Linked DNA regions of Homo sapiens. The protein of the gene in region 1 purifies or fractionates together with the protein of each later gene. This does not show direct contact. Each region holds a gene or a part of one and is shown in the gene's direction. Other genes may lie near its edges. The genes, in order: RAB40C, PDPR, TRIM56, RNF7, UBR5, DTX3L and USP22.

The links.
Region 2: the proteins of RAB40C (region 1) and PDPR purify together in Homo sapiens (affinity purification with mass spectrometry; one large-scale study listed by BioGRID and IntAct). This does not show direct contact.
Region 3: the proteins of RAB40C (region 1) and TRIM56 purify together in Homo sapiens (affinity purification with mass spectrometry, with the first as the bait; one large-scale study listed by BioGRID). This does not show direct contact.
Region 4: the proteins of RAB40C (region 1) and RNF7 purify together in Homo sapiens (co-immunoprecipitation; 4 studies listed by BioGRID and IntAct, with this or other methods). This does not show direct contact.
Region 5: the proteins of RAB40C (region 1) and UBR5 purify together in Homo sapiens (affinity purification with mass spectrometry, with the first as the bait; one large-scale study listed by BioGRID). This does not show direct contact.
Region 6: the proteins of RAB40C (region 1) and DTX3L purify together in Homo sapiens (affinity purification with mass spectrometry, with the first as the bait; one large-scale study listed by BioGRID). This does not show direct contact.
Region 7: the proteins of RAB40C (region 1) and USP22 purify together in Homo sapiens (affinity purification with mass spectrometry; one large-scale study listed by BioGRID and IntAct). This does not show direct contact.

The regions. Positions count from the first base shown.
Region 1 is NC_000016.10:613,521-617,696, forward strand, and holds part of RAB40C (ras-related protein Rab-40C), read left to right. Parts: exon of another isoform or gene 1-2,744; intron 2,745-3,687; coding exon 3,688-3,748; intron 3,749-4,176. UniProt on the Homo sapiens protein: RAB40C small GTPase acts as substrate-recognition component of the ECS(RAB40C) E3 ubiquitin ligase complex which mediates the ubiquitination and subsequent proteasomal degradation of target proteins.
Region 2 is NC_000016.10:70,141,508-70,145,683, forward strand, and holds part of PDPR (pyruvate dehydrogenase phosphatase regulatory subunit, mitochondrial isoform 1 precursor), read left to right. Parts: intron 1-726; coding exon 727-882; intron 883-963; coding exon of another isoform or gene 964-968; exon of another isoform or gene 969-1,045; coding exon 1,046-1,179; intron 1,180-2,002; coding exon 2,003-2,151; intron 2,152-2,913; coding exon 2,914-3,026; intron 3,027-4,176. UniProt on the Homo sapiens protein: Decreases the sensitivity of PDP1 to magnesium ions, and this inhibition is reversed by the polyamine spermine.
Region 3 is NC_000007.14:101,095,219-101,098,881, forward strand, and holds the end of TRIM56 (E3 ubiquitin-protein ligase TRIM56), read left to right. Parts: 3' UTR 1-2,749; downstream 2,750-3,663.
Region 4 is NC_000003.12:141,740,955-141,745,011, forward strand, and holds part of RNF7 (RING-box protein 2), read left to right. Parts: intron 1-1,689; exon of another isoform or gene 1,690-1,953; intron 1,954-2,554; coding exon 2,555-2,602; exon of another isoform or gene 2,603-2,603; intron 2,604-4,057. UniProt on the Homo sapiens protein: Catalytic component of multiple cullin-5-RING E3 ubiquitin-protein ligase complexes (ECS complexes), which mediate the ubiquitination and subsequent proteasomal degradation of target proteins.
Region 5 is NC_000008.11:102,290,229-102,294,404, reverse strand, and holds part of UBR5 (E3 ubiquitin-protein ligase UBR5), read left to right. Parts: intron 1-289; coding exon 290-450; intron 451-560; coding exon 561-800; intron 801-4,176. UniProt on the Homo sapiens protein: E3 ubiquitin-protein ligase involved in different protein quality control pathways in the cytoplasm and nucleus. Mainly acts as a ubiquitin chain elongator that extends pre-ubiquitinated substrates.
Region 6 is NC_000003.12:122,566,792-122,570,967, forward strand, and holds part of DTX3L (E3 ubiquitin-protein ligase DTX3L), read left to right. Parts: intron 1-1,697; coding exon 1,698-3,233; intron 3,234-3,663; coding exon 3,664-3,881; intron 3,882-4,176.
Region 7 is NC_000017.11:21,011,754-21,015,929, reverse strand, and holds part of USP22 (ubiquitin carboxyl-terminal hydrolase 22), read left to right. Parts: intron 1-30; coding exon 31-178; intron 179-2,994; coding exon 2,995-3,100; intron 3,101-4,176. UniProt on the Homo sapiens protein: Deubiquitinase that plays a role in several cellular processes including transcriptional regulation, cell cycle progression or innate immunity.

The DNA.
Region 1 (4,176 bases):
TTGCCCTTTTCTGCGAGGCTGGATCGTGGTGCGGTGGTGGCTTGGATGGGTTTCTCTGCTGAACGATGATGTGGAATGCCTTTTCACTGCTTCTTGGTCGTCGGTTTTTCTTCTTTGGGGAAATGTCTATTCAAGTCCTTTGCCCTTTTTTTAAAGTATAATTTCCGTATTTTTTTCCCCAGAGGATAGTTTGTCTTTAGTCCTTAAGGACTCAGCTCCTTATGTGGGTCTTAGTGGGAGTCGTGGGCAACACCCAGGTCTAGACCCAGGTGGAATGCATGGTCTTGGGGCCTTGGTGGGGGTCGTGGGCAGCACCCAGGTCTAGACTTGGGTGACGTGCATAGCCCTGGACTTGAGGAGCAGGATTCCTGACTGGCTTGCTGTGAAGGGCACCACTGGGGCAGTGACGCAGCTTCACACGCAGCTCGGGAAGCACACAGTCGGCGCAGATGCTTCCAAAATGTCTGCAAGGCTGCGGCCTCTACTGCATCCAGATGGTGAACTGCCTAACTCTACCGCGTCCCGATGGTGAACTGCTAACTCTGCCGTATCCCGATGGTGAACTGCCGAACTCTACCGCATCCCGATGGTGAACTGCCAAACTCTACCGCATCCCGATGGTGAACTGCTAACTACCGCATCCCGATGGTGAACTGCCGAACTCTACCGCATCCCTATGGTGAACTGCTAACTCTGCCGCATCCCGATGGTGAACTGCCTAACTCTACCTCGTCCCGATGGTGAACTGCCTAACTCTACCACATCCCGATGGTGAACTGCTAACTCTGCCACATCCCGATGGTGAACTGCTAACTCTGCCGCATCCCGATGGTGAACTGCCAAACTTTACCTCGTCCCGATGGTGAACTGCCTAAACCTCGTCCCGATGGTGAACTGCCTAACTCTACCGCATCCCGATGGTGAACTGCCTAACTCTACCACATCCCGATGGTGAACTGCTAACTCTGCCGCATCCCGATGGTGAACTGCCAAACTTTACCTCGTCCCGATGGTGAACTGCCTAAACCTCGTCCCGATGGTGAACTGCCTAACTCTACCGCATCCCGATGGTGAACTGCCTAACTCTACCACATCCCGATGGTGAACTGCTAACTCTGCCGTATCCCGATGGTGAACTGCCAAACTTTACCTCGTCCCGATGGTGAACTGCCTAACTCTACCTCGTCCCAATGGTGAACTGCCTAACTCTACCACATCCTGATGGTGAACTGCTAACTCTGCCGCATCCCGACGGTGAACTGCCAAACTCTACCTCGTCCCGACGGTGAACTGCCAAACTCTACCTCGTCCCAGTGGTGAACTGCTAACTCAGCCGCATCCCGATGGTGAACTGCCAAACTTTACCTCGTCCCGATAGTGAACTGCCTAACTCTACCGCATCCTGATGAACTGCTTAATGGCGTTGTCCCTGGGTACACATTGGGTGCAGCTCCTGCAGTCATGGGCTGCTCACAGCCGTGGCCCTTTTGGCACAACCATTGTTCCTTCTTGTCTTGGAAACGAGGACCCGAGGGAGACCATCCGTCCATCCTAAAATTGGGACGTTTGGTTTTCTGTTGTTGAGTTGGAGTTATTTGTAGAGTCTAGAGATCAGTCTCTAGGAGACGTGTGATCTGCAGACATTTCCCTCCATCTCTGGGTTGCATTTTTCTGTCCATTGATGGTGTCCTTCGATGCATGAGAACAGCCTTTGATGTACATGTAGGGGTTGGTCAGGCAGAAGGACGGTGTGGGTGGAAGCGCTGATGCCTGAAGAAGGGCACCGTAGGCAGAGAGACCGCATGGCTGGCTTGCAGGGCTGGGCCCGCACGGAGAGACAGATGTGCACAGACACACACACAAGCCCACTGGGCAGGTGCACTCCGTGGGAGGGCGTCGCTTATGTTTAAAAAGTGCCCGTTTCCAAGCCCCTTGGAGAAAGTGTCATAAAAAGACAAAACGTGAATGGTGTTTCTAAGGTGGGGGAAGGGGCTGAGCCCTAAAGGTAGAAGCTTCTGGAAAGTTTCCAGAGGGCCCAGAGCCTGTTTAAGATGTCGTGCCTGCGTTAAGTGTCCAGAACTGTCTGCTCCTTTCAGTTTCTCTTGGACTGACCTTTTCCTATAAAACTGTAAGGAAATAAAAAGTAATGATGTGATGTGGGCCGGGCACGGTGGCTCACACCTGTAATCCCAGCACTTTGGGAGGCCAAGGCGGGCGAATCACCTGAGGTCAGGAATTTGTGACCAGCTTAGCCAACGTGGCAAAACCCCGTCTCTACTAAAATTATAAAAATTAGCCGGCTGTGGTGGTGGGCACCTGTAATCCCAGCTACTTGGGAGGCTGAGGCAGGAGAATCGCTTGAACCCGGGAGGTGGAGGTTGTAGTGACCCGAGATTGTGGCACTGCACTGCAGCCTGGGCGACAGAGTGAGACTCCATCTCAAAAAAGAAAAAAAGGCCGGGTGCAGTGGCTCACGCCTGTAATCCTAGCACTTTGGGAGGCTGAGGCGGGTGGATCATGAGGTCAGGAGATCGAGACCATCCTGGCTAACACGGTGAAACCCCACCTCTACTAAAAATACAAAAAATTATCCGGGCATGGTGGCGGGCGCCTGTAGTTCAGCTACTCAGCAGGCTGAGGCTAGATAATGGCGTGAACCCGGGAGACGGAGCTTGCAGTGAGCAGAGATCGCACCACTGCACTCCAGCCTGGGTGACTGAGCAAGACTCTGTCTCAAAAAAAAAAAAAAATACCAATGTGGCAGGCAGGCTGGTGGCTGTCTGAGGTCAGTCCAGAGTCCGGAGAAGCAGCATTTTATTTATTTATTTATTTATTTATTTATTTATTGAGTACTGTCACCCAGGCAGGAGTGCAGTGACATGATCTCGGCTCACTGCAACCTCCACCTCCCAGCTTCAAGTGATTCTCCTGCCTCAGCCTCCCGAGTAGCTGGGATTAAAGGTGCCCACCACCACACCTGGCTAATTTTTTGTATTTTTAGTAGAGACGGGGTTTCACTGTGTTGGTCAGGCTGCTCTCAAACTCCCGACCTCATGATCCGCCCGCCTCGGCCTCCCAAAGTGCTGGGATTACAGGCGTGAGCCACCGCGCCCGGCCAGAAGCAGCATTTTTAAACTTGTTTGGCCCTCCCTAACACCAACCTTGGCAGTTCCTGGGCTGCAGTAAGCCGAGACTTGGAAATACATTCGCCTTGGAGAATTCAACTTCAAAATGCATACGAAGTAGGTCAGGGTGGAAATAAAGGCACTGCCCTTTCTCCAGGCACGCTGGAGTCCACGCCCTGCCTTTGCCCAATGCCCTCTGAGGGAGAGGCCCTGTGCCTTGCACCCAGCGCGGGCCACAGGCGGAGGCCCCATTCCAGGCAAGCCGTGCCCATGGAGAGGCTGGCCTGCTAGGCTGTGGGGCCCGATGGCCTGACACTGTATGGACCACGCTCCTGCCCTGCCCTGCCCCGCCCTGCCCGTGGCCCGTGTGCAGAAGTGGGCAGGCCTGGGTTGCTGGGCCAGAGCCCCGAGATTTCCCCCTGCCCCACTGGCTGAGTGTGGGGGAGCTGCTTCTCCACTTCCGCGTGGGTCTTGGCCCTGGGAGGCCAGTGGCCGAGGCTGGTCTCGCGGGCGCTCGCTCCAGGAGTGGCGCGTCCCCTCAGCGCCCTGTGCTTCCTCGCAGGGATCGACTACAAGACCACCACCATCCTGCTGGACGGCCGGCGCGTGAAGCTGGAGCTCTGGTGAGTTGGGGCTGCGGCACTTCAGTTCCTGGGTGAGGACACAAATGCCGAAGGGAGAACAGAACCCTTAGAGAAACAGGAAGGCGTCCTGTTTGCATTTCACTTGGAAGAGCCACTTACACAGCCCCTGTTTAAACATAGAATGGATTTTACTCCAACAGGAAAAAGACAGTCTGGGACACTGTGTCCCTAGAGATCGCGGCTCCCCTCCTGCCCCGGAAAACCTGATTCCGTGGTGGCTGTGAGCCCCTTCCCTCCCCTTCTGTCGGCTTCACCTTAAAAAGCATTTCCCAGCGGGGTGTGGTGGCTCACGCCTGTCATCCCAGCACTTTGGGAGGCCGAGGCAGGAGGATCACCTGAGGTCAGGAGTCCAAGACAAGCCTGGCCAACATGGTGAAACGCCATCTCTACTAAAAATACAAAAATTA
Region 2 (4,176 bases), about 70 Mb from region 1:
AGGTCTGAGATCCTAACACAGGCACAATGAAGAATCGAATGCCATTTTTTCACATTTTGTTACCACCTGTGTCCCACTTAGTAACCTTCTTCTCTGCTATGAAGCTTGGTAAGGTTTAGGACCCTGACCTTTCTGCCATCATTTCTACCTACTAATGTGGAATGCTGAATGTGAATACAGGCCGAGTCATGCCGTGACACGTAGCTCCAGGGAGGGACGATAGCAGCTTGGCAGGATTGTCTTTTCCTTCTGGAGCATGCCTGATACACTGGGTAATTTTGAAAATTAGACTACATTAGCCTGGAAATTGGGCCGGGCAGAGTGGCTCACGCCTGTAATCCCAGCACTTCGGGAGGCTGGGGCGGGCAGATCACCTGAGGTCAGGAGTTTGAGACCAGCCTGACCAACATGGAGAAACCCTGTCTCTACTAAAAATACAAAAATTAGTGTGGCACGGTGACACGTGCCTGTAATCCCAGCTACTCGGGAGGCTGAGGCAGGAGAATCGCTTAAACCCAGGAGGCAGAGGTTGCAGTAAGCCGAGATTGTGCCACTGCACTCCAGCCTGGACAACAAGAGCAAAACTCCGTCTTAAAAAAAAAAAAAAACTACGTTAGCCTGGAAAGCTCTTTTGAATAGAAACAACTCCAGAGTCTAGTGGACATGGGCTACTCAGGTCTAGAATCTGTGTCTTGGGCTTTGATAGACTACTCGTGTCTTTTCTAGCTTTGATGTATGATCTGAAGGTTCCCCGCTGGGACTTCCAGACCGGTAGGCAGTTACGCACCTCTCCTCTCTACGACCGGCTGGATGCACAGGGAGCCAGGTGGATGGAGAAACATGGATTTGAGAGGCCAAAGTACTTTGTTCCCCCCGACAAGGGTAAGAAGTCACATTCTCATTTTTGCTTCTTTTTTTTTTTTTTGTCCTGGGAATTAATAAAACATATTTTCAAATGCATAGGCTAGAATGTGTTCACAGAAGAAAAAGAACCACGTGGACTACACTAAACTCTACAGGGCCTTGTGATTTTTCCATTCCGTAGACCTCCTGGCATTGGAGCAGAGCAAGACTTTCTATAAGCCAGATTGGTTTGACATCGTGGAGTCTGAAGTCAAGTGCTGTAAGGAAGCTGTGTGTGTCATTGACATGTCCTCTTTCACAAAGTTTGAGATAACAGTAAGTATTTGGGAACCAAAAAGTAATAGATTAGGAAACTTTACATATTTATTGAATGCCTTTTGTTTTTCATCTTCAAAACTGATTCCTGACTGGGTGCAGTGGGTCATGCCTGTATTCCCAGCACTTTGGGAGGCCAAGGGGGCGTGGATCACCTGAGGTCAGAGTTCCAGACCAGCCTGGCCAAGATGGTGAAACCCCGTTTCTACTAAAAATACAAAAATTAAGGCCAGGAGTGGTGGCTCATGCCTGTAATCCCAGCAGTTTGGGAGGCCGAGACGGGTGGATCACCTGAGATCAGGAGTTCAAGACCAGCCTGGCCAACATGGCGAAACCGTCTCTACCAAAAATACAAAAAATTAACCAGGCATGGTGGCGGGCACTTGTAATCCCAGCTACTCGGGAGGCAGGAGAATCGCGTGAACTCATGAGGTGGAGGTTGCAGTGAGCTGAGATTGCGCCACTGCACTCAGCCTGGGCAACAGAGTGAGACTCCATCTCAAAAAAAAAAACAAAAAACAAAAACAAAACACTGATTTCTTAAGAATTCTGGTATATTTTAGTGTTTCATCTGTATTGTAACATTTTTCTGAAATTTTAGCTCCTTGTTTCAGGTTTTTAATTTGCTAGAGAGGCCTGTTTATCATAAGAATCAATAGCTAGCGTTCCCTGGAGCTTCTTGCAGTGGAGTAGGTCTGCAAATGTTGTCACATGGGAATTGGCTGATTGAATTTTCTCAATGAGGTTCATTGCTGGTGGGGCCATGTGGCCCAGCCAGGTGCTCTCACGCTCACTCTCTCTGTTTCATTCCCTAACCCTGCAGTCCACTGGGGATCAGGCATTAGAAGTTCTACAGTACCTCTTCTCCAATGACCTGGATGTGCCTGTGGGCCACATTGTGCATACTGGCATGCTCAACGAGGGTGGAGGGTATGAAAATGACTGCAGCATAGCACGACTGAACAAGCGCAGGTGAGATGAGCTGCCGTCCCGCTCTGCTCCCTCCAACATGTTGATTCCTTAGGGGTGCTGTAGCAGAGGCTCTCAGGCGCTTCTCCGGGAACCATAAATCCCAGAGTCTAAGAATCATTACATGAAATCAAAGCCAGTTTATTAGCAGTCCTAAACAAAAGAAATCACCAGGAGGAAAAGAAAAAAAAGCCCACCAGATTATGTACCCTACTGGGAGAAGATGCCTTGTCTTTTTTCTTTTTTTTTTTTTTGAGACAGGGTCTCACTTTGTTACCCAGGCTGGAGTGCAGTGATGCGATCATGGATCCCTGCAGCCTGGACCTCCTGGGCTCAAGTGATCCTCCCACCTCAGCTTTCCAGGTAGCTGGGACCACAGGTACACGCCACCACACCCAGCCAGTTTTTGTATATTTTGTAGAGATAGGGTTTTGCCACATTGCCCAGGCTGATCTTGAACACCTGAGCTCAAGCAATCTGCCCACCTTGGCCTCCAAAGTGCTGGGATTACAGGTGTGAGCCACTGTGCCCAGCCGATGTCTTAACGTTAGTAAATCTGTATAATTTCTTGGCATTAACAGGAAGCCAGAATTTTGTTTTGTTGTTAGGTGGTGTATCCTAGAATGGTGCTACTGGCCTTCTGTGAAAGCTAAGAAATCATTTCCTAGTATTTGCCTCATTGCTTTGAAACCAAATAAGATTTGATTGCTTCCTGATCCTTTTGCTGCTACCTGGTTTTGATTATTTTGGGGTCTCACTTTTCAGTTTCTTCATGATCTCTCCAACCGACCAGCAGGTCCACTGTTGGGCCTGGCTTAAGAAACACATGCCGAAAGACAGCAACCTGCTCCTGGAGGACGTCACCTGGAAGTACACAGGTACGGGGGTTCGGGCTCTGCCACGTCGAAAAGGCCAGCAGATGCAGATGTGTCCACGTTTGCCTTCTTTACATTTGACTCTCAAAAATGAACATTAGAGTTAGCATAAAAGAGGCTCTCTGGTCATAGAAAATTGATCTCTAGGGGATGCGGTGGCTGACACCTGTAATCCCAGCACTTTTGGAGGCCGAGGTTGGAGGATCACTAGGTCAGGAGTTCGAGACCAACCTGGACTATATGGTGAAACCCCGTCTCTACTAGAAATACAAAAATTAGCTGGGCGTGGTGGCACACACCTGTAATCCCAGCTACTTGGGAGGCTGAGGCAGGAGAATCACTTGAACCCAGGAGGCAGAGGTTGCAGTGAGCCCCAGATTGCACCACTGCACTCCAGCCTAGGCGAGTGAGACTCCATCTCAAAAAAAAAAAGAAAATTGAGGGCTGGACACAGTGGCTTACACCTGTAATCCCAGCACTTTGGGAGGCTGAGGCGGGCGGATCATGAGGTCAGGAATTTGAGACCAGCCTGGCCAACATGGTGAAACCCCATCTCTACTAAAAATACAAAAATTAGCTGGACATGGTGGTGCATGCCTGTAGTCCCAGCTACTCATGAGGCTGAAGCAGGAGAATCGCTTGAATCTGGGAGGCAGAGGTTGCAGTGAGCCAAGATCATGCCATTGCACCTCCACCTCCCGGGTTCAAGCGATTCTTCTGCCTCAGCCTCCCAAGTAGCTGGGATTATAGGCGCCCGCCACCACGCCGGGCTAATTTCTGTATTTTTAGTAGAGATGGGGTTTCACCATGTTGGCCAGGCTGGTCTTGAACTCTTGACCTCGTGATCCACCTGCTTCGGCCTCCCAAAGTGCTGGGATTACAGGCATGAGCCACCACGCCCAGTCCCAGAGAGTACCTAATTTTTAAGGATGACTTGGTTCCCTGATTTTCTCACTCTCAGCAGTCTCGGCTTAACCCCTCCCACCTTCCCACCTAACTGATCTTGCCCCTTGGCCCCACCAGCGTTTGCTCTCCCAGGCTCTCATTCTCAATTCCTTGTAGTAGCAAATATGATATACGTCCTGCTCCTGGATTGGGATACTACAGAATGTTACTGAACAAAAGTCATGTTCTAGCCTGTCTTAGGATGGAT
Region 3 (3,663 bases), on another chromosome or scaffold:
TTTTAAATTAGCCAGAGGTGGTGGCATGCACCCGTAGTCCCAGCTGCTCGGGAGGCTGAGGCAGAAGATTGCTCGAGCCCAGGAGTTCAAGGCTGCAGTGAGCTCTGATTGTGCCACTGCACTCCAGCCTGAGTGACAGAGCAAAACCTGGTTTCCTAAGGGGGGGATAAAAGAGGGAGAGATGAGATCGGGGTGTCCCGCTTCTGTGCATGTGGAGGGGGTAACTGGGAACCGTGTACTGTAGGGGATCGCACACCTTGGGGTGGAAACAGCAGCTCTCCGGAGTTGCATGGGAGCCATGGGCAGTGGTCCTGGCTGGTGAAATGATTCTAGCCACGTGGCCCACCCAGGGGGCAAAACAATAGAAACCTTCAGAAATGAAACGTCACCTGGCTGCAAGAAGATAGTCCCACAGGCGCCCTAGAGATGGGGATGCCAAGTGGCTTCTCGGGAAGCTGTAAGAATCCACAGGGCATTGTAAGATGGAGGGAAATATTAAGTTTTCTTCGTAAAGAGGTGAGGGGGGCGAGAGCAGCAAAGGACACTGGAAAATGAGAAGCATGGATGGGAAGTGTTGCATTGAGCATAATTTGGAGGTAAAATCTCCAACACCGTAACTGAGTGGCCTGGGGACCTGATAGAAAGCCCTGCTCAGGACTAAGGCAGAGTTCCCAGTTATATCGCAGATACAAAGAGACCAGGAACACGCTTGTAATCACAGCACTTAGGGAGGCTGAGGCGGGTGGATGACCTGAGGTCAGGAGTTCGAGACCAGCCTAGCCAACATGGTGAAACCCCCATCTCTACTAAAAATACAAAAATTAGCCAGGCGTGGTGGCACATGCCTGTAATCCCAGCTACTCAGGAGGCTGAGGTGGGAGAATCGCTTGAGCCCGGGAGGCAGGGGTTGCAGCGAGCTGAGATCGTACCACTGCACTCCAGCCTGGGCAACAGAGTGAGACCCTGTCTCAAAAAGAAAAAAAAAAAAGAGAGAAATCAGGAACATCATGAAAGATACAGCAAAATGTTTTACCCCAGCCCACTGCACCACACCTGGGATTGTGACAATTAACTTGATAAATTGTTCCTTTTCCTGTTCGGAACTGACTAGGTTGTGCGTGGATGGACCAGTGAAAAGAAAATCCTGTTTGGGTAGGGAAGAGGGAAGTAGAAAACCTCTTTCGTATTCTTGGTGTCAAGAAATGGGAAGAGAATGAGGGAGCAGAGACCTGGGTTGAGTGTTGGCTCTGCACTAAACAGCTGTGTGATCTTGGTCTAGTGCCTTAACCTCTCTGAGCCTCAGTTTGTACATCAGTAACATTGGGATAATGACATCCACATGCCCACTTCACAGAGCTGCTGTGAGGACTGGATGAGAAATGTAGAGAAGTATTTCGGACACCATAAAGCTCAAATACAAGGTGTTGGTTAGGAAAAGTTTCAACTGACTTGTACCCACCTGATACCCCTCCATCAGCATAAGCGTGTATGAGGATGTTAGGTACATGTGTTGTGAGTGAAAGCTCTGGAACACCCGAGTAGAGCTTTCTGCAAATCAGCTTCTCCTTCAGAGGAGACCATTTTGTTTTGCTTTCCAGCAGTTACTTGAAGAAGCCTTATCTGAAGTCACAACAGTGACTTCAGGAATAGAAGGGACCAATGGCCAGCTTGCTGAAATGTAATGCCATTCTTAAAAGCCAGCTAAGAATCAGACCGTATTAGTTAAGGACCCATAAGAGTAGACATTTAGAAAAAGTGAAAAATGGCAAGAGTGGCCCAATCTTTTGAGAGTTTAGAGAAAATATCATTTGGAAAGGGAGTAGCTCTCCTTCTATTTTAGCCTTATTATTACGGTATCTATAAAGCAATGCCATATTCTAAATCTGCAGAAATAAAATTCTAAGGGGCGAAAGTCCAAGGCAGAAGTCAAAAGTTTTGCAAGGAAACCGATGAGGTTGCTGACCTGAGCTGGGCAGGGTTGAACAGGCGAGTGCCAAGATCAAGGTCTCTGATTGTCTCTCCTTGAAAGGTAAGCAGAGAACTAGGGCTATCCCATAAATTAAGTGGGAGATTGGAAAGGGGTGCGGACTTCTGTATTGGGGAGAAGGTCTTGGATGAACTGGGGCAGAGAACTGCCAGAGAGAGTACCTAGGAATACGTTGTTAGCAGGAGAAAGACCAAGTTCAGATGCAGACTTGGGAAAGTAGGTAACTTGACCAAAGGTAGCAAAATTAGACTACCCAACTGGATTGTGAATGCAGTTTATGAAATGGATCAGGACAGGAGCAAAAATAGATTTTCTAGAAACTGCAGACTCCTGTGATTGGAGCAGTATACAAAGTACAGCAACATCAGACTAGATCTCACCTGAGGTGCTGGGTGAGAAATCTTAGGGACCAGATGGAAGAGGGCCTGTGTATAAAGACATTAGGAAGGAGGTTTGGGAGGGCAGCCTGACTTGTCTCCAGAGAAAGTTAGAACTGGTTGACTTAGCAACCAAGGGACACTGGGTCAAAGACGAGGAATCAGGACGTCGGTGCCTAGTGACTGAGCGCCAGCCCAGCCCATTTCTCTACATTGCCATGGGCTAAACCCAGTGTGCTGTAAACTCTTCAGTTCCTTTGGTTATGGATTTTGTATCTTTTCTGTGTTTCTTAATAAAGTTCTTTTGAAAAATGGGAACCTTTCTCAGATGGGAATTTTGTATCTTTCCTCTGTTTCTTAATAAAGTTCTTTTGAAAAATTGGAACCTTTTCTCAGAAGGGTTTATGGATACGGGGAACCTTTTTTTTTTTTTTTGAGACGGAGTTTCGCTCTTGTCGTCCAGGCTGGAGTGCAGTGGCACGATCTTGGCTCACTACAACCTCCACCTCCCAGGTTCAAGCAATTCTCCTGCCTCAGCCTCTTGAGTAGCTGGGATTATAGGCACAAGCCAACACGCCTGGCTAATTTTTGTACTTTTGGTAGAGACGGGGTTTCACCATGTTGACCAGGCTGGTCTAGAACTCCTGACCTCAAGTGATCCACCCGCCTCAGCCTCCCAAAGTGCTGGGATTACAGGCGTGAGCCACTGCACCCGGCTGGATACAGGGAACCTTTAACAACCAGGCCCAGATAGTGAAGGAAATCAGGTCATCAAAGCCACCCAATGGTAGGTAGCTCCCAGGGTGGCCACACAGATTCCTTGGGGACATTGCAGAAGCATGCACCTTCTGGGTGGGAACCAGTAGGTGATCTGGCCCATGCTGGCGCATGCAGGGCTCCACCTGGGCACACGCAGGTGTGATATGCAGGAAGTACATGAGGGACCCAGGTCATGGTGGCTGTGCCCACCACGTGGGGCTTTGTTTTGGGGTTTGTGGAAGCCAAACAAGCACCTGTGGGTACCTTCCCTTTTCTATTTTTTCTATTTATTTTTTTGAGACGGAGTCTCTCTCTGTCATCCAGGCTGGAGTGCAGTGGCGTAATCTCGGTTCACTGCAACCTCCACCTCCCGGGTTCAAGTGATTCTCCTGCCTCAGCCTCCCGAGTAGCTGAGATTACAGGCACCCACCACCATCCCCTGCTAATTTTTGTATTTTTAGTAGAGACAAGATTTCACCATATTAGCCAAGCTGGTCTCCAGCTCCTGACCTTGTGATCTGCCTGCCTTGTCCTCCCAAA
Region 4 (4,057 bases), on another chromosome or scaffold:
AACACTCTCTTCGTTTCCACTCTCCTCCCTTCATTCAGAAAGGAGTGATGATTACACAGTGAGCAAGTGCTGATGAAAAGGGGAATAGGTTTGCTAGTACAGCCAGTTATAATAGCCAGAGTAACCCTTCATGACTGTATCACCTTGGATATTTCACATAACTTTTTGGAGCCTTATTTTCCTAATTTGTAAAGAGGCAGTTGGGATCACCAACCTTAATATTAAAATTCTGTGATTGCACAGAACTAGCGCCAGATTCAGGTAGGATGTCTTCACTGTTATATCACAACCCTCATGATATTTAGGTGTTTGTCTACGTCCCCATTTGCTCCTGAGCCCCTTGAGACCCAGCCTTGGTCATTTTGGTGTCCCCAGTGCATAACTCCTTGCACAGAGGAGATAGTAATTGTGGGATTGAAGAAAACCTCAGGAGGCAGTGGTTGTTTTTAATCCACACTGAAGAGACTAGGGCAGTGGTGTTTTTTTAAGGGTAAGAGCATGTGGAAAGGAGCAAACAAATGCCTGAGCAGAATCCAGTGTAAGAAGAGAAGCAGGCTTCAACTTAACCGTGTTTCTATTTTTACAGAATTATTTTTCTCCTATTTATGTTAAAAACTATTTTCTGTTGGTTCAAACTTCCTTTTACCCAACTCTGACTCCTCTTCCAGCTAGTGAATGAGTCCATTTTTGCTCCCTAAAATATTCTATATTACTTTTTTCATTAAGCTGATAGTATTCCAGATTGAATTTTGAAAACTTCTAGTACAGCCTTTAGGATCTCATTTTTAGTATTTACACCTACTCCACTATATTAGAAGTTACTATAAGCTCACTGGGCATGCTCATGGGCAGTTTATTTTCAAGGCACCCTTTTAAATAACCCATACATATAATGTTAGTATTTGTTTATATATACATCAAGAAATTCTAGAAGGATACCCAAGAAACCAGTAATAAAGTAATTTATTAAAAGACTTTACCATTGTTGGGTAAATACTTTGGGCTCAGACTTATCTGTATTTTCTTTCTTTCTTTTTTTTTTTAAAAAAACTTTTAGGTTCAGGGCTACAAGTACAGGGTTGTTACATAGATAAACTTGTGTCACAAGGGTTTGTTGCACAGATTATTTCATCACCCAGGTATTGAGCCTAGTACCCATTAGTTATTTTTCCTGATCCTCTCCACCTTCCACCCTCCAAAAGGCCCCAGTGTGTGTTGTTCCCTGCTATGTGGCCATGTGTTCTCATCATTTAGCTCTCAAGCATTTTCTTTTTTTTTTTTTTTTTTTTTGAGACGGAGTCTCGCTCTTTCGCCCAGGCTGGAGTGCAGTGGCGCTATCTCGGCTCACTGCAAGCTCTGCCTCCTGGGTTCACGCCATTCTCCTGCCTCAGCCTCCCGAGTAGCTGGGACTACAGGCGCCCACCACCACGCCCGGCTAATTTTTTGTATTTTTAGTAGAGACGGGGTTTCACCATGTTAGCCAGGATGGTCTCCATCTCCTGACCTCGTGATCCGCCCGCCTCAGCCTCCCAAAGTGCTGGGATTACAGGCGAGCATTTTCTTACAAAGAAAAAACCTTAGTGTTTAGGGATATCTAGTATTTACTTATTTTATCTGTAAAATTCTCACCAGTTTGTATCATCCCCACTTAATATATAAATACCTCACAGTATTGTCCCTTTTTTACAGATGAGGGAATTGGAGTTCGTAATTGGTCCGAGGCCCTGAACCTAATAAATGCCAGTGAAATGGGATTTGACTGTAGATCTGGCTCCACAGCCCTCGCTGTCCCCTCTGTCTCACTGGCTTCTCACCAGCCTTGTCTGGATGACCATCGGTAGCAACCTATTGGAAGCATACAAAGCAGTTTATTTTAGAGGAACTCTCAAGTGTCTTAGGGTAGAAAGTAAAAAGTTGCTTCTTATGAGTTGCTAAAGGAAGGCTTCTGTGTCAGTAAGTATGGATGACTTTAAAAAACTTGTTTATGAAGCAATTTTTTAATTTAATTTTTTATAAGTTATATATTCATATAGTTCAGAAATTGAGGAAGTTATGTATATTACCTGGAAGAGTGAAAACTCTCCTTCCCATTCCAAACCCTCCCAGTAAACTTTATTATTGGTTCCTTGGGTATCCTAGTGTTTCTTGATGTATGTATAAACAAATGCTAACATATATATATGGTTTATTTAAAGGGTGTCTTGAAAATAAACTGTCCATGAGCATGCCCAGTAAGCGTATGGTAACTTTGAATATAGTGGAGTATGGCATATTTTTCTCTAGTAGTTTTCTCTCTTGGCACCGTCAGGACATCTTTTCATCAGAGCTTATAAAAATAGAGGATTTGTTAACCCTTGTGAAATTGCTCCTGGTTATAATTAGTAGAATGCCTTGTACTTTATTCCTCTTTAAGTAGTTATGTTCAGATGAGAAATTAATAGTATGAGTCTTTATTGCCATCCCTAACCCTTAGGGCTTTTGACTTTGAAGTGTCTGGTTTTTAAAAATTGCATTCTGAGCATCAGAATGAGAATCGCTATTTGTTTACTTTTAGATGCCTGTCTTAGATGTCAAGCTGAAAACAAACAAGAGGACTGTGTTGGTATGTTGTAATTTTGTTCTCTTGCTTTTTCAACTGAAGGTTTTCTCTCAGTAGGGATGTTTGAATTTGAAATTAAGATTGACTTTATCAATACACAAAAATAAACTGTAAAGCAGTGATCCATTGTTAATATAAAATATGTTGGTTCTCAAAAGAGTTTAATGGAATGAACCTGCAAGTCCTTTTATTGCCATAATTAAGAAGAATTGGTTATATATTCCAGACATGGTCATAATAAACATTTTGGTAATCAAAAATTAAATATTTTCTATTAAGAAAATTATAAAATCAGAAATTTGTCAAAACATTATTTGAATTTTGGCTATGTTATAGGTCACTTTTGGTTCTAATAAGGCATTTCACTTTTCAATACTCTTATAATACAGTATTTAACTTTAAAACCAGAGTAGAAAAATTCTAAGTCTCAAGTATATTTTTGGAATGTGGTTTGTGTATCAAATTTTCTTTAGAGTCTTAGACTACAAAAGTTGTCGTAGGCTAAATATTTTAGGCAGTTCAAAGATTTTTATGCCCTAGTTCTTGAGGTGATCAAGTCTAGATTGCTATATAAACATGTTTATAGATTTTCTTAGAATAAAAGATTGGCTTTGTATTTTGTGTTTGCATGGTGTACGTAGAACACAAATACATGGTGTACATAGAACTTCTTAATATTGATTCTTGCAGTTTTGATCCAGTTCTTCCTCCTGAAACGCTTAGAATGTTTCACCCTTGCTTCCTACCCCCTGTAGCCAATTTTCATAGGCATTTTTTTCTTTTTTTCTGCCTTATTTCTTTCATTTAATCTTTTTCTCTGCCTTATTTCTTTCATTTAATCTTTTTCTCTTGTCATATAGCTCAGTTGATCAAGCAAGGGACAGATGAATCCCAAATTCGAGATTGCATTCTAGATTGTGGATGATTTCCCTTGTTTTAAAGTTTTTCTTTCATGCTGCTTGTTTAAAAAGTATTAATTTGGGAATTGTGAGGGGCAGGCCACTTTCTTTGATCACAGAGAGACCTCTCTCTCCAGCCAGCCACTTTGAAAATTTCATCGTCACATGAGGAATTGCACTGCTTATGGGTGACTTAACACAATTCATCACTTCTAGAAAACAGCTCAGCTCAGATGCACAACTGAATGTTTAGAAGCATGTTATTTATAATAGCCTACTGCATACTAAAAACATTTACAACTCATTCTGTCTTGGTAAATAAAAATTGGAAGGACATTTTCCCATAAAATAAAGCCCAGAAGATCTCTAAGGTCAGTGCATGACTGAGAAGGTCAGATCTAAGGAAGGTTCAAGAACATTCATCTAACTTCAAGAAGACAGCATGTGGAGCTGTGTAGGAACTAGGGGTCATCACATCACCCATAGATTCTAGAACAGTGATGGAAAGGCTCTCAAACAGTGACTTATGTCTCTGTGTAACTTACACATTTAAGTTTCT
Region 5 (4,176 bases), on another chromosome or scaffold:
TTCTTCTTCTGATTTCATATATTTGGTATTGTTCTTCTAAATATTAGTTGATATACCAAGGACTGTGGGACAAAAAATAAGAAATCGTACATTTAGGACTCACTGTATGTCAAGCACATTGGCAGGTATATTTCATAAACTGACCTTGTAAATGTTTTGGTTAAATTTGTTTTGAGATTTTATTATAAAATGTTAATACTTAAAAAATGTTAGAACTTATAACTTTATGAATGTCTAAACATCTTATGAAGTATCTTAACATTAATAGAGTGAATATAATTTTTTAAAGCTTTTAGATACTCTACTAGGTACACTAGTGAAAGAACTCCAAAACAAATATACACCTGGACGTAGAGAAGAAGCTATTGCTGTGACAATGAGGTTTCTACGTTCAGTGGCAAGAGTTTTTGTTATTCTGAGTGTGGAAATGGCTTCATCCAAAAAGAAAAAGTAAGGCATCCTTTTTGATTTTGGTTTAGATACCATTTTCACTCTGTTTTTGTGATAGTGATTTATGTATATGAAAAGATAGATTGCTGATATTTCTCTTTTTGTTCTAGCAACTTTATTCCACAGCCAATTGGAAAATGCAAGCGTGTATTCCAAGCATTGCTACCTTACGCTGTGGAAGAATTGTGCAACGTAGCAGAGTCACTGATTGTTCCTGTCAGAATGGGGATTGCTCGTCCAACTGCACCATTTACCCTGGCTAGTACTAGCATAGATGCCATGCAGGGCAGTGAAGAATTATTTTCAGTGGAACCACTACCACCACGACCATCATCTGATCAGTCTAGCAGGTAAATTGCTACCAGGTAACAGATTCTGATTAATCCTTCTCTGGAAATGTCGTGTTTGACTTCCTAAAACCTTTGCATAAGCACTCAGGTGGTGTACATGATCATTTGTGTAACATAAATAACAACCAGAAAGCCGGAATTTTAAATATTTTTCTACAACAACTGTATTATCAAGGACAGGGCTAAAATAACTCCATTATAAATGTTTCTAATTATAAGATTATTTGTTCTTAAGTTTCATTTATCTTTTCTATTTGTTTGATAGTTTCCCTAATTACACTGTAAGCTTGTTGAATCAGGATGTTGAGCAACTTAAAACTTTCCGATGTCCTTTAGCACACTGCTTCTCAAACTTTAATATGTATGAAAATGACTTGGGGCTCTTATTAAAATATAGATGCCCACTCTAGAGGTCTTGAGGTGGGGCCTCCAACTTCGTATGCCTTTCAAGTTCTCAGGTGATGCCAATTCTGCTGGTTTAGGGGTCAGACTTTTCAGTAATAATGCTGTAGATCTTTGGCAAATATTTAGTGTATTTTGTTTTTTCAAGTCTGATTTTATAACCATGTGCATGTGTGATGATGTTTTAATAAGGACCTTTAGGATCTAAAGACCCTTTTCCTCCTTTTCTGGAAAACATCTCTGTTAATAAGGATGGCCTGCTTTAGTGTTTGGGATAGTTCCCAAGTTGTTACGCTTGGATTTGATCTGGGTTGGTGTTGAGTATCTGCTCTCACTATTCTCCTATATGCCAGTATATGTGTCCCAATTTTTCCTTTAATGTCAGGTGTCCCTTTAATCTAAATCCAGTTTTGTCTGACAGAGCTCTCCCATAGTATCCTTGATACTGATATACATCCAGGACTTGTTGAAAACTGTTACAAATCAAGCTGTGTATCTTCAGACTTGTCAAATCTATCCCATGATTAAATAATTCTGCTTGTGAGATCTGCTTGGACTCTGTATGATTTTCCTGATCTTGATACCCTGTGAGGAACTCATTAGTTACTTAAGTGGTATTACTTTGTGAATTCTTAGTATACTTCCCTTGATCTTGTTCTGGAACATAAAAAATTGATGGCTGTTGAACAGATTTTGGGATCGTCTCATCTCTAAACACTGCCCTTGAAACTGTTCCTACTAAGTTTCAAGATTTTGTGTCATCTTGTTCTTAGTCTCATTATTAAAGTATTACATACTCTTAAACTCTCTTTATTCCATTCCCTTTGCTTGTTTCTTGAGACAACTTCCTAAATCTTCCCAGAAGGAGATCTCATGTGATAATCAAGAAATAGTGCTAATGTTTTCTTCAACTGTTAAAAGTTCTTTATTATAGTACAGTACATTCTTACCCATAAAGGGTGTATTTTGACTAGTGTTCCAAGGATGTCTTAAGTTGAAAAACACAGACCTTGACCATTCTCTGGGATTTCACTTGTCTTGGATTATAGAAGGTGTATATCACCCCATTGAGTGTGAAGTCTTAAGAGTAGCTTTTTCTGTTGCTTCTTTCCACCTCTTGAAAATGTTCTTGTTATGTTCTTAATAAATAATCTGTTTCTACTTTATTTCCATGTCTCTCATATAACAGTAACTAACAGTTACTGAAATTTTAGTATGTACTAGGAACTTTCCTAAGTATTGTAGACAGATTACCTGTTTTAATTTTCCCAATATGTCATAGATAACCACTATCATTCTAGTTTGTCAAATGGGGAAACTACGGCTCAGAAAAGTTAGGCAACTTCTCCAGTGTAACACAGCTAATTAAAGTTTAGACGCTGGACTTACCTTGACAGATACTTCCTTTTTTTTTTGTATTCTCCTGAATAGTAGATGGCAGAGTAGAGAGGAAGACTACTTGGTGCTTGCTCATAGTGTTGAGCCACCACACAGTTAACCAACACTGAACCAGGCTTTATAGTGTAGAGTGCAGTCCAAAACTCTCCAAAATGCAGACTTGTAGTTAGAAGTTCTCAAAAGAGACCTTTTTCCATTCTGCATCTATTCATGGCTGAGATAGGTAAATCTCTCGAGGTATGATTTTTCTGTTTCACTCCTTCATGGTGTTGCCCTTTTAAGATTTATGTTTAGCTTTATATATGTGAGGGGGACAGAAGAGGAGATTCCTGTGATGACTTTCTATTCTTTGCTTAGCCTCCAGACTCTCATGTGAAATCTGTGGTTCCTTGAAGCCCTTCTAGCCCAAGAGACATCAGTGGGTCCCTTTGGGATAAATGGTGGCACTTGTCTCTCCAAGCTTTATACAGTACAGTCGTTTCTCTTTATCACCTGCACAGCTGTCCTTTTTTTTTTTTTTTTTTTTAATATCTAGCATATATATGTGTTCCTTAACAAGAGTGGTTTCTCTGCACAGTCTGCCAAATTGCTGGAACTAGAAGTCCCCAAAACTTAGTAGTGTATTAACGGGGCTTTTTAGACTAGGCTTCAGGACTGTTGTGCTTCATTGTGCCAGCAAGTCTGTTGGGAAAAAAGTTGAAGTCACACTAACTGGGGAGTTACACAGGTTGAGTATTCCTAATCTGAAAATGAGAAATCTGAAATGCTGCAAAACCGGAAACTTTCTGAGCACCAACATGATGCTCAGAGGAAATGCTCATTGGAGCATTTTGGATTTTGGGATTGAGGATGCTCAACTGATAAATATATATAATGCAGATACTCCAAAATTTAAAAAAAAAAAAAAAAACCCAAGATCAAAACACTTCTGGTCCCAAGCATTTCAGGTAAGGGATGTTCAACTGTAATACGTTTTATGTATTGGTATTTTTAAATTACTCTTTTTAAATTTTTTGTAGCGTTTGGGTCTCGCTGTGTTGCCCAGGTCGGTCTTAAATTCCTGTCCTCAAGCAATCCTCCCACCTCAGCCTCCCAAAACATTGGGATTACAGGCATTAGCCACTATACCTAGTCTGTTTTGGCAGTATTATACATACTAACTGCATAACTTCTTAAAGTAACCACTTTGAGGGGCCTATAGTTCTTGTGGATGTTTGTTCTAGGATGTTTGTTTTAAAAAAGAAATACTCATTAGTTGTGGCTTCACACAGTGCTTTTATGTTTTAATATTGAAATCTCTTTAGTGGTTGGAAATACCCTTTTTCATCTCTACAGATTTTCTCTTAGCCTTTCCCACTTTTGTAATCCACGATCTCTGTTTTACCAGTTACTTATAGTTCTAGTGTTAAACATCATATTGAGACTACTTATCTGTTTGTTTGAAGGCATGGTGTTTCAGTCAACTCTCAGGTCTAATTGGTTTGATTCTCATTTCTCATAGCAACTGAGATAGGAAAGAACCTGTCAGTGCAATCACTTAAAGGTCTTTTGACTTCAACATCTTTTACCCCGTTTC
Region 6 (4,176 bases), on another chromosome or scaffold:
TAGGAGCTGGGGAGGCAGCCAGGAACATGGCAGACTCGGCTTCCAGGGACGGCACCTTCTAGAGAGAGAAACAGACAATATTAGTAAACAATAGATATATAATAAAATGTCTGCCAGTCATACCTGCTAGGAAGAAGAATAAGTGACAGACAGTGACAGAACCACCATTTAAAATAGGATGTCTGGAAAAACCTCAAGTGAGGTGACATCTCTAGCCAAGTGGATTTCTGGGCGGAAAGTGTCCTAGAGGGAAGCATAGGTGCAAAGTCCCCAAGAGCTGACATTTTGAGGCCCAGAAGCTTTAAGGAAGCCAGTGTGGTGGGGAGGGCAGTGAGCAATGGAGAGAGGTGCTAGGAACTCGGGAAGGTACCCAGAAGACAGGCCTTTGGGGCTGAAGGTAAGGATTTTGGATTTTTAACTTAAAATGTTAGGGGATTCATCAGATAGTTTTGAGCCAGGGGAGAGGGCGATCTGGTTTATATTTCTAAAGGGTCACTCTGGCTGCTGTTGGAAAACTGAACGTAGAAAGGGGATAGAATGGAGAGTTAGAGCCTGGTTAGGAGGGGTTGCAGTGCGCCAGGTGAAAGATGATAATGGCATGCACTTTGGTGGCCTTGATGGAGGTGTGAGAAATGGCTGGATTCAGGAAACATTTTGAAGATCTAGAGGAAGGATCTTAACATGCAAAGTCCTTGAGAAGGAACAAAACATTAGGAATTTTGCTTTTATATTACAGTCAATTGGTCTCTGTCCTTTTTATCTTAACCTGGCGTGTCTTATATTTGAGCTTCTAAAGGCCAGGGTTTAGAAGGGTCCACAACTTTGCATGCAGTCGAGTGTTTAGTTGAAACAAGAATAAAGGAGGAAGAGTGAAGAAGAGAAAAAATAGTAATAGGAAAAGCCATTGCCCTCAGTTTTATGGCTCCCTTCCAAGTTCACAAACTTTTGTGAGGGCCACAACAACTTGCCCAGAGAGCACAGGTGCCTTCCCTTGACTGCTGTTCCCAAGATCAAACAGCTAGTGGCAGTTGTAGAACACGGATCTCTTGGCCATGGAGCTTTTAGAAATGCTCATGCCCAGGCTCCACTGCAGATTAGTTAACATCAGAATCTCTGGGGATGTGCTTGGGCTTTGGCTGGTTTGTTTTTCCCTGAATTCGCCAGGTGAGTCTTATATGCAGACAGGGCTGAGAACCTCTGGGATGTAGCGTGCTGTATCCTCTAAAAAGGATTTGAGACCAGGCACGGTGGCACATGTCTGTAATCCCAGCACTTTGGGAGGCTGAGGTGGGTGGATCACCTGAGGTCAGGAGTTCCAGGCTAGCCTGACCAACATGGAGAAACCTCGTCTCTACTAAAGATACAAAATTAGCCGGGCGTGGTGGCACATGCCTATAATCCCAGCTACTCAGGAGGCTGAGGCAGGAGAATTGCTTGAACCCGGGAGGCGGAGGTTGCAGTGAGCTGAGATCGCGCCATTGCACTCCAGCCTGGGTAACAAGAGTGAAACTCCATCTTGAAATAAATAAATAAATAAATAAATAAATAAATAAATAAATAGGATTTGAAAGAAGTTGCCCCCACTTGGGAAAGATGTAGTGGTTGTTTCTCTAGTCTCTATGCATTCTCCTGAAGAGAAGATGGTAGGCCTGCATGCTGAGAGGTTTTATTTGTTCCTGTTCCTTTTAAAATTTCAGATCTTTCTTACTGTAACAGCTGACCTGAACTGTAACCTGTTCTCCAAAGAGCAGAGGGCATACATAACCACACTGTGCCCTAGTATCAGAAAAATGGAAGGTCACGATGGAATTGAGAAGGTGTGTGGTGACTTCCAAGACATTGAAAGAATACATCAATTTTTGAGTGAGCAGTTCCTGGAAAGTGAGCAGAAACAACAATTTTCCCCTTCAATGACAGAGAGGAAGCCACTCAGTCAGCAGGAGAGGGACAGCTGCATTTCTCCTTCTGAACCAGAAACCAAGGCAGAACAAAAAAGCAACTATTTTGAAGTTCCCTTGCCTTACTTTGAATACTTTAAATATATCTGTCCTGATAAAATCAACTCAATAGAGAAAAGATTTGGTGTAAACATTGAAATCCAGGAGAGTTCTCCAAATATGGTCTGTTTAGATTTCACCTCAAGTCGATCAGGTGACCTGGAAGCAGCTCGTGAGTCTTTTGCTAGTGAATTTCAGAAGAACACAGAACCTCTGAAGCAAGAATGTGTCTCTTTAGCAGACAGTAAGCAGGCAAATAAATTCAAACAGGAATTGAATCACCAGTTTACAAAGCTCCTTATAAAGGAGAAAGGAGGCGAATTAACTCTCCTTGGGACCCAAGATGACATTTCAGCTGCCAAACAAAAAATCTCTGAAGCTTTTGTCAAGATACCTGTGAAACTATTTGCTGCCAATTACATGATGAATGTAATTGAGGTTGATAGTGCCCACTATAAACTTTTAGAAACTGAATTACTACAGGAGATATCAGAGATCGAAAAAAGGTATGACATTTGCAGCAAGGTTTCTGAGAAAGGTCAGAAAACCTGCATTCTGTTTGAATCCAAGGACAGGCAGGTAGATCTATCTGTGCATGCTTATGCAAGTTTCATCGATGCCTTTCAACATGCCTCATGTCAGTTGATGAGAGAAGTTCTTTTACTGAAGTCTTTGGGCAAGGAGAGAAAGCACTTACATCAGACCAAGTTTGCTGATGACTTTAGAAAAAGACATCCAAATGTACACTTTGTGCTAAATCAAGAGTCAATGACTTTGACTGGTTTGCCAAATCACCTTGCAAAGGCGAAGCAGTATGTTCTAAAAGGAGGAGGAATGTCTTCATTGGCTGGAAAGAAATTGAAAGAGGGTCATGAAACACCGATGGACATTGATAGCGATGATTCCAAAGCAGCTTCTCCGCCACTCAAGGGCTCTGTGAGTTCTGAGGCCTCAGAACTGGACAAGAAGGAAAAGGGCATCTGTGTCATCTGTATGGACACCATTAGTAACAAAAAAGTGCTACCAAAGTGCAAGCATGAATTCTGCGCCCCTTGTATCAACAAAGCCATGTCATATAAGCCAATCTGTCCCACATGCCAGACTTCCTATGGTATTCAGAAAGGAAATCAGCCAGAGGGAAGCATGGTTTTCACTGTTTCAAGAGACTCACTTCCAGGTTATGAGTCCTTTGGCACCATTGTGATTACTTATTCTATGAAAGCAGGCATACAAACAGTAAGTATTTCTCAAGTCCATGGGTTTCTTGCCACTATGCTACGATTACCAGGGCAAAAGAGACTGTCCTGTTGCCTATTAGACAATAGATTTCCCAAGGAATTATCTCCAGGGTCATGTGCAAGGGACTGAAATAGTGGTAAAGGTCACAATGTTTGCTGGTAATTCAAATACCTTTTGTGTCTATTTCTTAAGACAGAGAAAGGGTGGGTGGAGATTATATCTTGAGATGGGGGTATCAGGAAGGTGGACAGTGTTTCCAGCATGAATTCAAGGAAAGAGGAGAAATATGAGTTATTGGGAATATGAGCATAACTTCAATACCTTTCTTGCTTTTGATTTGCTTTATCTACAAATGAACACATCTATACCTATAGTAAAAATTAGACAGGGCACTCTTTTCACATGACATTTTCTTGTTCTCACACAGGAAGAACACCCAAACCCAGGAAAGAGATACCCTGGAATACAGCGAACTGCATACTTGCCTGATAATAAGGAAGGAAGGAAGGTTTTGAAACTGCTTTATAGGGCCTTTGACCAAAAGCTGATTTTTACAGTGGGGTACTCTCGCGTATTAGGAGTCTCAGATGTCATCACTTGGAATGATATTCACCACAAAACATCCCGGTTTGGAGGACCAGAAATGTGAGATCCTTTTGGGATGTAATGGCTGCTCAACAGAGTATAGGGATTATGAAATACGGCAATTTCTGGATGTGGATATAAGTAGACTCTATAGCAGTGGAATTGGTGTTTTGAGAGCTGCTGATCGGGGATGGTAATCTCAAAGACAGAAAGATTGGTCCCCATCAACTTCTACCCTGCCAGCTATAAAGTACTATGGAGTTATTTAAATTTTGCACCAAAGGACAGGGGGCTTTTGAATCCGAGATGAATACTATATAAGCTGATTTAATTTGAGGCGTTGTGTCTATCTGAA
Region 7 (4,176 bases), on another chromosome or scaffold:
GACAAGGTTTCCTTCCCCGCCCTCTGGCAGTTTTACTCTGGACACCGGTCCCCTCACATCCCGTATAAGTTGCTGCACCTGGTGTGGACCCACGCGAGGCACCTAGCAGGCTACGAGCAGCAGGACGCCCACGAGTTCCTCATCGCGGCCCTGGACGTGCTCCACCGACACTGCAAAGGTGGGCCCTGGGCTCTGCACCCTCCACCAGGGCAGGATGTTTTCCTTGAAGGGGAAGGAAGCAAAGCGAGTGTATGCACTCGTGCAAAAAGGGGCACAGGTGACACATTCCATTGTTTTGTCATCATAGCCCTTGTCGTCATTTGTTTCTGAAGTCACCATAACTAATGACCTCAGAGAGGCTCCTCCTAGTTTATTTTTAAGAGGCGAGGAAGTAGTTCCAGCAGTATGACAGGTCCTCAGTGACCGATCACAGTGAACAGCAAACTCTTGGAGCCCTCTTGGGCCTGTGCTTTGAGGCCCCTGCCTGCCCTGGCATTTCTGGGACCCTGTGGGTTATCAGGCCTGAGGCTTCTGGACATCCCCCAAACACAACTTAATCACCCAACTGTCTCCTTCCCATTGGGGACTCTCCAAAAGGACTGATGGTTGCTCTGAAATAGCCAGAGAGCTGGGACACAGGACGAGCAAAGCTTCTCTTGGGGTCTCATTGGACCTGGGCCATCTCCCCCAACATAGTCCCACAGCCTGGCCCCAGGGTGGTACCCTGATGATTTTTCAGAGTTGTGTGGTGTTGGTAGTTGGCAGGGGCAGCTCTTAGCGCTGGAGGTGGGAGGCTGGGAATGAATGACTTGAGCCAAGATCGGCTCCTCCCCACTCCTCATGGTGGAGATCCCAGTGTGAGGGACCTGCAGCTGAAGTCTATCCATACAGGCAGAGAGACTGAGAGGTGATTCTCAGATGAGTGTGGGCTGGTCACTTGCAGGTCTTCCTAAAGCCCGTGCTGGCGTTTCTGATTCAGCAGATCTGTGGGGGGCAGGGGCTTCTTCACTCTTAATCAGTTCCCAGCTGATGTTGATGCCGCTGGTTCAGATGCCATACTCTGAGAACCCATGCGCTCAGGTCACAGGGCACCTGGCTGCTTGTGAGTTTCCTGTGGTCTCTGGGCTGGCACAGCTAGTTGTAGCCGATATCCTATCAGTTAATTTTAACTTGGAGTCTTTTAGAGAACAGAGTCCTGTTCTGACGGTTCACCGAGTTGAACAGCTTGGTGGGCTGGCCTTCCCATCGCTTCTCATCCGTCTCAAGGCTGTGCACCCGGGCCCTAGGCGCTTACGTACAACCTATGGGTTCTGAGATCACAGCCCAGAAACAACCCACAGTTGAGCTAAAATGGCTGGTTTTGGTCAAATGTGACTTTGGGTTCTGTTTTCTTTTGGTACTTACTTTTTTTCCTCTGAAAAACTACGTGATCCTTTTAATTCTTACCTAGAAATCAAAGGAAAGTTACTTAGTAGCTTAGGTAGAATTTCATGTCCTAGTATGATTTATAAGAGAGGAAAGAGCCACTGTGGAAGTGACTATGCTGTTACCCCAAGCACCTAGTGAGAATAACGAAGAGCCTTCTGTAAGCAGCAGAAAGATGTTCTAAAAATCACTTGTTCAAAAATGCATTGCTGTTAAATGTTCACATGACAAAATGTGACCTCTGACGTGCTTCTGACAGAATTCCCTTGGAAATGTCTGAAAAGAAATGTAAGGTTCTTCTGTTTAGAAACCTGGTTGCCAGAGCTGTTCAGCGAGGTGGCCTGGCCACATGGCCTTGGTTACGTGCATTTTGTCCTTGTGGCCTTCACGGCATCTTTCTGTTCATCTTTTGTTTTGTTTTGTTTTGTTTTTGAGTCAGAGTCTCGCTCTGTCGCCAGGCTGGAGTGCAGTGGTGCGATCTCAGCTCACTGCAACCTCCGCCTCCCAGGTTCAAGTGATTCTTCTGCCTCAGCCTCCTGAGTAGCTGGGACTACAGGCGCCCGCCACCATGCCCAGCTAATTTTTTGTATTTTTAGTAGAGACGGGGTTTCACCGTGTTAGCCAGGATGGTCTCGGTCTCCTAACCTCGTGATCCGCCCGCCTTGGCCTCCCAAAGTGCTGGGATTACAGGCGTGAGCCACCGCGCCTGGCCATTCTGTTCATCATTCTTTGCGCCTTCCTGTATGGATATTCTTGTCCTCTGAATTTTGTCCCATGAATTTGAGATCCCTCTGGGAAGCATTTTTCTCTCTAATCTTAAACCTTCTGCTCTCAGAAGACTTAGTGGCCCTTCTCTATTCCTCTGTCATGATTCAACGTCTTTGAACTGTGATGTATATACAGGTGTCCTCGTGCCCTGTCCCCACTGTCTAGTGAAGTTATGTAGAATATGTATTCCACACACGAATTAAGTTCTGCTACTTAAGTTTCTTTTTCACAGATCTGCACACATGGATATGAATGAAGTGTGTATTGAATAGAGAGGGTGGGAGTGGCACTTCCAGATGCAACTGACTGGAAGACACGCTGTCCCCTGGGGGCTCTAGCTGATGAGGACAGCCTGTGTCCTGCGGTGTCACTTTCTGAACTTGGGGCACCATGATACCTACTCAGGGAGGGAGGTTGCTGGGGCTTCCCCGGGTGTACCTGGCCCACCATATGTTCAGCTGTCTCACTGGAACAATATTGATTCAGTCATTCTTTATATGATAATGGGAATCGATTATTCTGCTCAGTCACTGGGCATTAGGTGGGTTTTCTTGGCAAGACTGAAGCTGTGGGGCTCTTGTTAGGGAATGAGAAAAAGGAGCATTGAAAATCCAAGTGCTGTGATTTCTCGTCATATTAAAATAACAAGGACACCCTCTGCTAAAATGAGGAGTGTCCTCACATGGCCTTTTAAAGCGTTGGCCCTGGCTCCCCCAGGCTTCTGCAGGGTGAACTGCTCTTCCCTTAGAGACTCCCCATATTTGGGGAGACACTAATCCCAGAGCCGTGGTCTGTCTCCAGGTGATGACAATGGGAAGAAGGCCAACAACCCCAACCACTGCAACTGCATCATAGACCAGATCTTCACAGGCGGGTTGCAGTCAGACGTCACCTGCCAAGTCTGCCAGTAAGTGAGAGGCTGCGTGCTCGGCAATATCAAACCCTCTGGGGCCGTACTGACATCCTCCCAGTCTCCAGAGCTGTGTGTGCTCTGAGAGGTCTTTAAGGAGGCTATGAGATAAATGATTAATAGACGCCATGAGAGCGAAGGTTGTGGGGTGGGGGTGCTTCCTCTTGGGGAGGTCGTAGGGCAGGTGTCCCCTCGGGATGCGAGCCCTTCGTGTTGAGGTCTTGGCTGTTGTCTACAGCCAGCAGTGTGTTCTTGGAAGCTTCCCCTACCATTTTGCATCTTACAGTCCTTGACCAGGGACCAAGTGAAAGAGCCCTCTTCAAGAAGGCGTGGATCATGCATGGTGGATTGTTTTTCTACGTGCTTCGAAGTGTGTTAGTTTTCATTATTTTATGGTTTCTGGTTCCATTTTCTGATGTAGTGGCCCTAATTCTTCTCAGATGTGGTCTCTGCTTAGAGCCTCAAGTGTTGAGTGCAGGGAGAATCCATTGCTTTGTTAGGTCAGGGGACCCTCTCACCCAACCTCAGTGCATGCTACAGGTTTTTTGTTTTTGTTTTTGTTTTTTTCAGGCATGGGGTCTTGTGTATGTTGCCCAGGCTGGCCTTGAACCCATGGGCTCAAGCGATCCTCCCTCCTTAGCCTCCCAAGTAGCTGGGACTACAGGCATGGGCCACCGTGCCTGGCTCTGTTCTTTACTTCAGTTGAAGTTTAAAAACCCTGGACATGATCCACCGAAATTATTTCAGAACCCGAAATGGACTGTCACTTCTAAACTGCATAAGACGAGCAAATATCGGGAAAGGCCAGTGCTGCCTGTGTCACGGGGGCCATTTTCTATAAGGAGCATAGACCGTTTGGGGCCTTGTCTCTGAGTATTAGAAACCGAGTTTGCTCTGAGCAATTTGGACCTCCTCGCTGTCCCTTAACTACTGAATTCCATTAGTAGGAGATTGTCTCAAGATTTAAATCCTGTATAAATATCGAGAGTAAATTTCCCAGTCTGCAAGTTTTCATTTTTTATATTGTTAAATAAATTTCTAGCAAGGAACTGGCCTTGTGAAATGCAGCATTG